Linked DNA regions of Homo sapiens. The protein of the gene in region 1 purifies or fractionates together with the protein of each later gene. This does not show direct contact. Each region holds a gene or a part of one and is shown in the gene's direction. Other genes may lie near its edges.

Region 1 (3,823 bases):
ATACTCCTATCATTCAGGAAATTCCAAGGGTTTCAGGAGCTCTGTGCCAGGAATCAGTGACAAAGAACAAATACATGTTTTTCATTACACACATTTTTAAAAAGTAAAAAGAAACAGGTAGAATTATTTTTAATAATATATTTTATATTATCCAGTATATCAAAAATACTATTTTGACATATCAATATTTAAAAATATTGAGTTGTTTTGCTTTTTTAACATTAAGTTCAAAATCCAATGTGTGTTTTACATTTACAGCACTTCTCAGTTTGGATTAATTTCAAGAGCTCACTAGCTACATGTGGCCAAAGGGCTATTGTATTACATAGGGCAGGTCTAGATCATCTTTTTCAATGGCAGCAAGTCTTCTAATCTCATTTAGATGGTCATTGAAGTTGTTTCCAACCTATAATCACTATCGATTATGTTGCAAAGAACATGGGATTAGCATCCACTGTCAGTTGCAAAAAGATCCCCCCAAAAAGTAGCTTAAATAAGGTAGAAGCCTATTTCTCTCAAGCATAAAAGTGTGGAGAAAAGCAATCAATAATTGGTTAAGATCCTATCCAGTATTTTATCCTGTTTCTGATGTGAGGCTGCTCTGCCTAGAGTTATCTCTTTAGTTTTAAGTCAGCTGCTGGATCTTTTAAGGATTCCAAGGAGCAAAAGGGGAAAGAATTCAAAAGGCATAAGCTGCTGCCTTTTTAAGAAGGTTTCTTGGAAGTTACACAAAAAAACTTTCAACTGTTGCTCATTGACCAGCATTTAGTTCTCTGGCAACAGTTAGCTGCAAGGAAGTCTTGGGAAATGTAGTCTTTTAACTGGATCATTGTTAAATCAGGGATTTTGTTTGAAAAAGGAGGTGGGGAATAGGTGGTAGCCAGCCAGCAACTTGTGTTGTCATCAAGCCTGCGTGCATCTTTGCACACTTGCCCGATTATCCCCTTAGATAAATTCCTAGATGTTCATCACTGGTTCAAAGGGTTTATAGCTTTATATTTTGATTTATTTTTCCAATTTGCCTTTTAGAAAAGTTATGCCAATTTGTACTCCCACCTCTAACAATCAGTGAGTGCTGTTTCCTCACACAATTGCCAGTGATGGCTGTTAGCAATCTTTAAAATTTTTGCCAATATGACCAGCAAAAAAAGTGTCATTAGTGGTTTAATGTGCATTTACTGTACTCCTAATGAGGTTAAGCATCATCTCATATGCTTTATGACCATTTGTATATCTTCTTTGCGAATGGCACTTTCGGTTTTCTTTATTGATACATAATATTTTATGTATTTGTGTGAGTGCTTTTTACTTGTATGGATTGTGTAATAATCAAGTCAGGGTATTTGAGATTTCCATCACCTTGAGTGCTTATCATTTTTATGTGTTGGTACCTTTTCAGTTCTTTTGGATATTTTTTTCTAAGGGATTTAAAAAACTCTTTCATTGATTTCTAAGAGCTTTTATAATATTTTAATAATCAGGATATTAATCCTTAGATATTTGTGTGAGCTATTTTCTTTTTTTCCCCTCAGGATATGCTTAAGTTATGTGTTAGATATTTTCTTTGTTGACTTTAGGTCATGTTTATTTATTATGTAGCTAAATCTGTCAGTGTTTCCACTTATGATTTTTGATTTTGTATCATGATTGGAAAGGGCTTCCCCATCTCTAGATTATTTTCTTCTAATGCTTTTATGTTTCTTTTATTTTTATCTTTACGTCTTTTCTTTTTTATTTAAGTAAATTCCATCTGGAATTTATTTTGATTAAACTTGCTGTCTATCTCAGTTCTTATTTTTTCAAATAGCAAAGTTATTAACCATGTGTTGAAAATTTATTTCCCACTGAGTTTTATATGCTCATCATATATACTAAATTCCCATCTATGCTCAAGATTTTCTGAAAGTACTGATGCTTTTGTTTTTTTGTTTTTAAACAGAAAAGCTTGTTTTTGTTTTTACTGGAGGGTTAGGTGGCAGTACTGGTATTTTTATTGGTTGTTTTTTGCATTAGTTAAAAAGCACTTCACATTTCAATGGTTTTTTAGCCTTATAGTGAAGAAGAAGAAGGCCAAGAGTCAAGTGAAGAGGGCAGTGAAGAAGATGTAGAGGCGGTGGATGAAACAGCAGATGGAGCAGAAGTTAAGCAAAGGTACAAAAGTGGGAAAGGATATCAAAGTAGGTTTAGGAAACATTTTATTTGTTTATTTTTATTATTATAACTAATTCAATACTTTCTTGAAATGGAGACAACTTGTACCTGGAGAGCTTTTCATACTATTGTCTGCTTAAAGATCATTACTGTTTTAGTTTTGTAATTATTTTTAATACATTTAGCTCTACCTCGTTTTCATCTGGAAACTGTTAGATTTTCAAAACTTACTGATGATTATCAACTGTGATTAAAGAAGTTCCCTAATTGAGTGAATAGGCATAACCTGACCTGACTCACTTTGCTATTTTGTCTCCCCAGAACTGATCCCCACTGGAGTGCTGTTCAGAAAGCGATTTCAGAGGCGGGCATCTTCTGTCTTGTTAATCATGTCTCGTTTTGCTACCTAATAGTTCTGATGCGAAATAGGATGGAGACTGTGGAAGACACCAATGGATCTGAAACAGGGTTCAGGGCATGGAATGTACAGAGCAGAGGACGTATATTTCTGGTTTCTAAGCCTGTGCTCCAAGTAACATTTCTCATTAGTTTTTTTTTTTTTTTGTACAAAAAGAATAGATAATTCATGGTGTCACTTGAGGACTTGGAAACATTCTCATTGATCCTGCTTTCCTATCATTTGAGTGGAAACAGATGTTAAATTTTATTTACTATTCGAAAAATCCTGAAAGCCTTTAATAAAAAGTAAGAAATTGGCCAGGCATGGTGATTCACACTGGTAATCCCAACATTTTGGGAAGCTGAAGCAGGAGGATCACTTGAGGCCAGGAATTCAAGACCAGCTTGAGCAACATAGTGAGACCCTATCCTACAAAAAATAAGAAAAATTAGCCAGGTGTGGTGGCTCATGCCTGTAGTCCCAGCTACTCGGGAGGCTGAGGTGGGAGGATTGCATGAGTTTGGGAAGTCAAGGCTGTAGTGAGCTGTGATTGTGCCACTGCACTCCAGAGCATGAGTGACAGGGCAAGACCCTGTCTTAAAAAAAAAAAAGTAATTAATTACATTTTTTTAAAGGAGAAATGATCCATAATTCTGTCATTAAAAAAAAATTACAGGCCGGGCACAGTGGCTCATGGGCACAGTGGCTCACACCTGTAATCCCAGCACTTTGGGAGGCCAAGGCGGGTGGATCACCTGGGGTCAAGAGTTCAAGACCAGCCTAGTCAACACAGCGAAACCTCACCTCGACTAAAAATAGAAAAATTAGCTGGGCGTGGTAGCGCATGTCTGTAGTCCCAGCTCCTGGGGAGGCTGAGGCAGGAGAATTGCTTGAACCTGGGAGGCGGAGGTTGCAGTGAGCCGAGAATACTCCACTGTACTCCAGCCTGGGCGACAGAGTGAGACTCCGTCTCAAAAAACAAAAAAATAATTACATAGCCAAATGAAAATTCTCTTCCTCAAACTCATAAGTAATCACCATTAACAATTTAGTACGTGTCCTTCCTGACCTTTTTCGTTATTTATTACTTATAAGTACATCCTTGTATGTGTGAGGGTGTGTGTCTATGAGTAGTGTGTATGTGTATACAAAAAAAATCCATTAATTCTTCAGTGCATGTGATTTGCCAATAGACATTAACTTACCTGTGAAATGGAAGCGCAGGGTGGAGCAGGACAGGAGCAGGGACATTTTGATAAGGGTATACTTGAA
Region 2 (3,823 bases), on another chromosome or scaffold:
TAACTGTCACCTTTGAGTCACTTCTGCTATGTCTTTGTCTTACCTAAATTGAGTTTCTCTAGTGATATACCCTCTTTTAGTGGTCTTAACTATTCCCATCATTTTAAATACACTCTGTAAATTAGTCAGCTTTCCCTAGGATATGCTGAAGTGATGCAACCCAAATATCTTGTGGCATACATCAGAGAAGTTTGTTTTTTGCTTACATGACTTGTCCTGCAGTTCTGCAGTTGTTGGCTGGGACTGGGCTGTAGCAGCTTTATTTTGTGTGGCTCTATTCCTTGTTTCTCAATCTAAGTTGAAGAATGACCCTTTTCTGGAACATCTTCCTGTGTCAGAGGAAAAAGAACAATGTCCAGTCTATGAAGTGTTTGTTAAACCTTTTGTCTAGACATGTGTATGTCATGTCTGGTCACTTTGCATTGATGAAAACAAGTCACATGGTCAGACCCACACCTGAAAGTATATTTTTCCTACACGGAAGCCTTAAAATTCGCATGGCAGTGAGTAAGGATTTTCACCACTTGCCTGAAGATGGTTTTAGTCCGTATTTTGACTGTTCCTAGTGGTAAAAATAGTATACGTGTATAGATTTATCCCCCCTAGACATAACATTTTTCTTGTTTTTTTTTTTTTTAATCAAATAGGATTTTCTACAAGGAATATGTCTTACCCCTGACTGTGAAGGTGTCATTTCTAAGATTATCATCTTCAGCAGTGGTGGTGAAGTTAAATGTGAAGTAAGTAATAAAGGGGAAACCTTGTTAGATAGATAACCAAAATGTTTACACCTTTTGAAACATGATTTGAATTTGTAGATATCATGTAATTTGGATCTTTTCCAGGAAAGAAACAATTACTTCATTTAAGAAAATATAGGAAATACTGGGATGTGAGAATGCTTCATTGTAATGAAAGCATTCTTATATTCTTTTATTTCTTAATAGGAAAAGGAGGCTTTTTATATCTTAGTTTTACTATTTTTACTGTTTTTGATAACTTCATTTTCTTAATCCCGGTAAACTTTTGGGCAGTAGTGGGTGTGCAGGTTTTTAGGGAGGGGGAAGAGCGTCTTGAGGGATTACCTTTAACTTCATGACATGGGAATGGCAAGAGTGGGTAGTTGTAATAATATTTACACTTTATTAGATCGTCTGCTTACTCTTAATTTTTTAAAAACTTTTTCCTCAAGTGTGTCTACCCTCTTGTTCCTCTTCAGTAAATTATTTTGCTAAAGCTTTCTGGGCTTTTGTCTGGGTCAGAACATCATCACTGTTCTCTATCAAACTGAACATTATGTGTGCTTCTGAAATACTTGTTACTTGTGGTTTTGTGTTTTATGTCATGGGAGTATGAGACAAATTTTGGATGTCTTTGTTTTATTTAAAGTTTGAACACAAGGTCATAAAAGAAAAGGTTCCTCCAAGACCTATTCTGAAACAGAAATGTTCTAGGTAAGATTTTTAACAATCAATCAGTGGTTTGATGATGTCTCTTAGAATATAATTCTATTAAATGCAGATTTCTAAATTATGCCTTTTTAAAAATTGGCTGTGTATACATATATTCAAATAAGTGTTTTTTAAAATGATTTTTATGGAAAATTAAAACTTAAAGAGAACTAGCCTAGAATGATTAAATACTAAAAACTTGATTCAGAATTATTTATCTAGTGGTTGAATTTACAATTAAAATTATAACATTTGATGCTGTGAAATTACATGTTTGATTAATAGATTTGGCATTTATATAAAAACTATACAGTTTGCTCTCAGTTGTTGAAACTTTAATTCCAAAAGCATATTTTTCTTTTTATCTCTCTTCAGTAAACATTTTGAACCTATGACTATTTTTTACCCTGAAATACTCAATGTACTGTCTAAATTATTACTTCTCTATAGCTTTTTGTTTAGATCAAATAATTCAGATTCTTTTTTCTTTTCTTTTTGGTCCTGCTTCTTGTTTTTCTTTCTAAGAAGTGATTTTTTTTTATCATTTGTGACCAAGAAAAAGCAAAAGAAAAGATGAACAGAATTATTTGTTGGAGAGAATTCATTGTAACCAGATCAACCAAATTATAGTGTTGTGGGTTATTATTGAGATGTGAAAATTATATTTTACTATGGGACCTTTCTTAGAAATGAGAGTTTACATGAATTATTTTGCAGAGTAATTTGTACTATTTCTGTTTACCCTATGAAGTAACTTAGATACATGAAAGTGACATCTATACAATCTGTAGACTGCATCCTTAGACATCACCTAATCATTGAGGTTTTTGTTTTCATGAAACAAGTACCCTTATTTTGACAATACTGACAGTTTCTTACATTGAATGGAAGATGTAGGCCGGGCTCTGATTAAAAAAGGAAAACTTCTAATATATTGCTTGGAAGATGGTTTCTACGATAGTCAAAGGAAAACAGTTCATTGAGTTGTCACTAATTGTAAATGTTTATCAGCCTAGAGAAACTAAGACTGAAAGAAGACAAAAAATTGAAGAGAAAGATCCAAAAAAAAGAAGCAAAAAAGTTAGCACAAGAAAGAATGGAGGAGGACTTAAGAGAAAGTAATCCACCCAAAAATGAAGAGCAGAAAGGTATGCAGAAGCCAAAGGCATGATAAGAATAATATACTCTCATTTAAATGTATAAATGTAAGCATCTTTTGGGCCTTATATTCATCATTATTGAATTGAAATAAAGATTTCACTTAGTAATTTAATACTATCACTGTCTTCTGTTACTCGAAGACAGAATTGGGTTGGTGTAAAGAACACTGAAAAACCTTTCAGAGATTGTATTCCCACTGAAAAACCTTTCAGAGATTGTATTTTAACTTTCTGTGCTTAATGACTAAACATATTTATTGTATATAAAGTTAAGGTAGTTGATGAGGCTGGGTTAGGATTGTTGAAGGAAGTGGCCGTATTTTAGGGGAACTAAGTTGTTTTTTTTTTTTGTTTTTTTTTTTTGAGACGGAGTCTCACTCTGTTGCCCAGGCTGGAGTGCAGTGGCGCGATCTCGGCTCACTGCAAGCTCCGCCTCCCGGGTTCACGCCATTCTCCTGCCTCAGCCTCCCCAGTAGCTGGAACTACAGGTGCCCGCCACCATGCCCAGCTAATTTTTTGTATTTTTAGTAGAGATGGGGTTTCACCGTGTTAGCCAGGATGGTCTCGATCTCCTGATCCACCCTCCTCGGCCTCCCAAAGTGCTGGGATTACAGGCATGAGCCACCACGCCTGGCCTAGAGGAACTAAGTTTCAAATGCTACTACATGAATGGTTCAGAATGAAGGGTGTAAAATGCTTACTTTTGGTATGTTTATTTTAGCGTACACTTTCATGTCTTTTCAAAAGTATTGTTAAGTGTTTATATTTCTAATTAAAGTTTCTTGAGTTTAGTAAAACAGTATAATCAATCTGAATCATATTTTATATTATGTAATTTTGTTATTTCTAAGTTTATGTAATTGTGAATTAGTCCTATTTATCACTTTAACCATTGTTATTTATCCTTAGAAACTGTAGACAATGTTCAGCGTTGTCAGTTCCTTGATGACAGAATTCTACAGTGTATAAAGCAGTATGCTGACAAGATTAAATCCGGCATACAGAATACAGCCATGCTTCTCAAAGAATTGCTTTCTTGGAAAGTTTTGAGCACAGAAGACTATACAACCTGTTTTTCTAGCAGAAATTTTCTAAATGAAGCAGTGGACTATGTTATTCGCCACTTGATTCAAGAAAATAACAGAGTAAAGACAAGAATATTTCTGCATGTTTTGAGTGAGCTTAAAGAAGTGGAGCCCAAATTAGCCGCCT

Evidence for each region.
Region 2: the proteins of NPHP1 (region 1) and TTC3 purify together in Homo sapiens (affinity purification with mass spectrometry; one large-scale study listed by BioGRID and IntAct). This does not show direct contact.

The regions. Positions count from the first base shown.
Region 1 is NC_000002.12:110,163,380-110,167,202, reverse strand, and holds part of NPHP1 (nephrocystin-1), read left to right. Parts: intron 1-2,047; coding exon 2,048-2,151; intron 2,152-2,472; coding exon 2,473-2,515; coding exon of another isoform or gene 2,516-2,683; intron 2,684-3,823. UniProt on the Homo sapiens protein: Together with BCAR1 it may play a role in the control of epithelial cell polarity. Involved in the organization of apical junctions in kidney cells together with NPHP4 and RPGRIP1L/NPHP8. Does not seem to be strictly required for ciliogenesis.
Region 2 is NC_000021.9:37,149,431-37,153,253, forward strand, and holds part of TTC3 (E3 ubiquitin-protein ligase TTC3), read left to right. Parts: intron 1-647; coding exon 648-740; intron 741-1,389; coding exon 1,390-1,454; intron 1,455-2,462; coding exon 2,463-2,599; intron 2,600-3,520; coding exon 3,521-3,823. UniProt on the Homo sapiens protein: E3 ubiquitin-protein ligase which catalyzes the formation of 'Lys-48'-polyubiquitin chains. Mediates the ubiquitination and subsequent degradation of phosphorylated Akt (AKT1, AKT2 and AKT3) in the nucleus.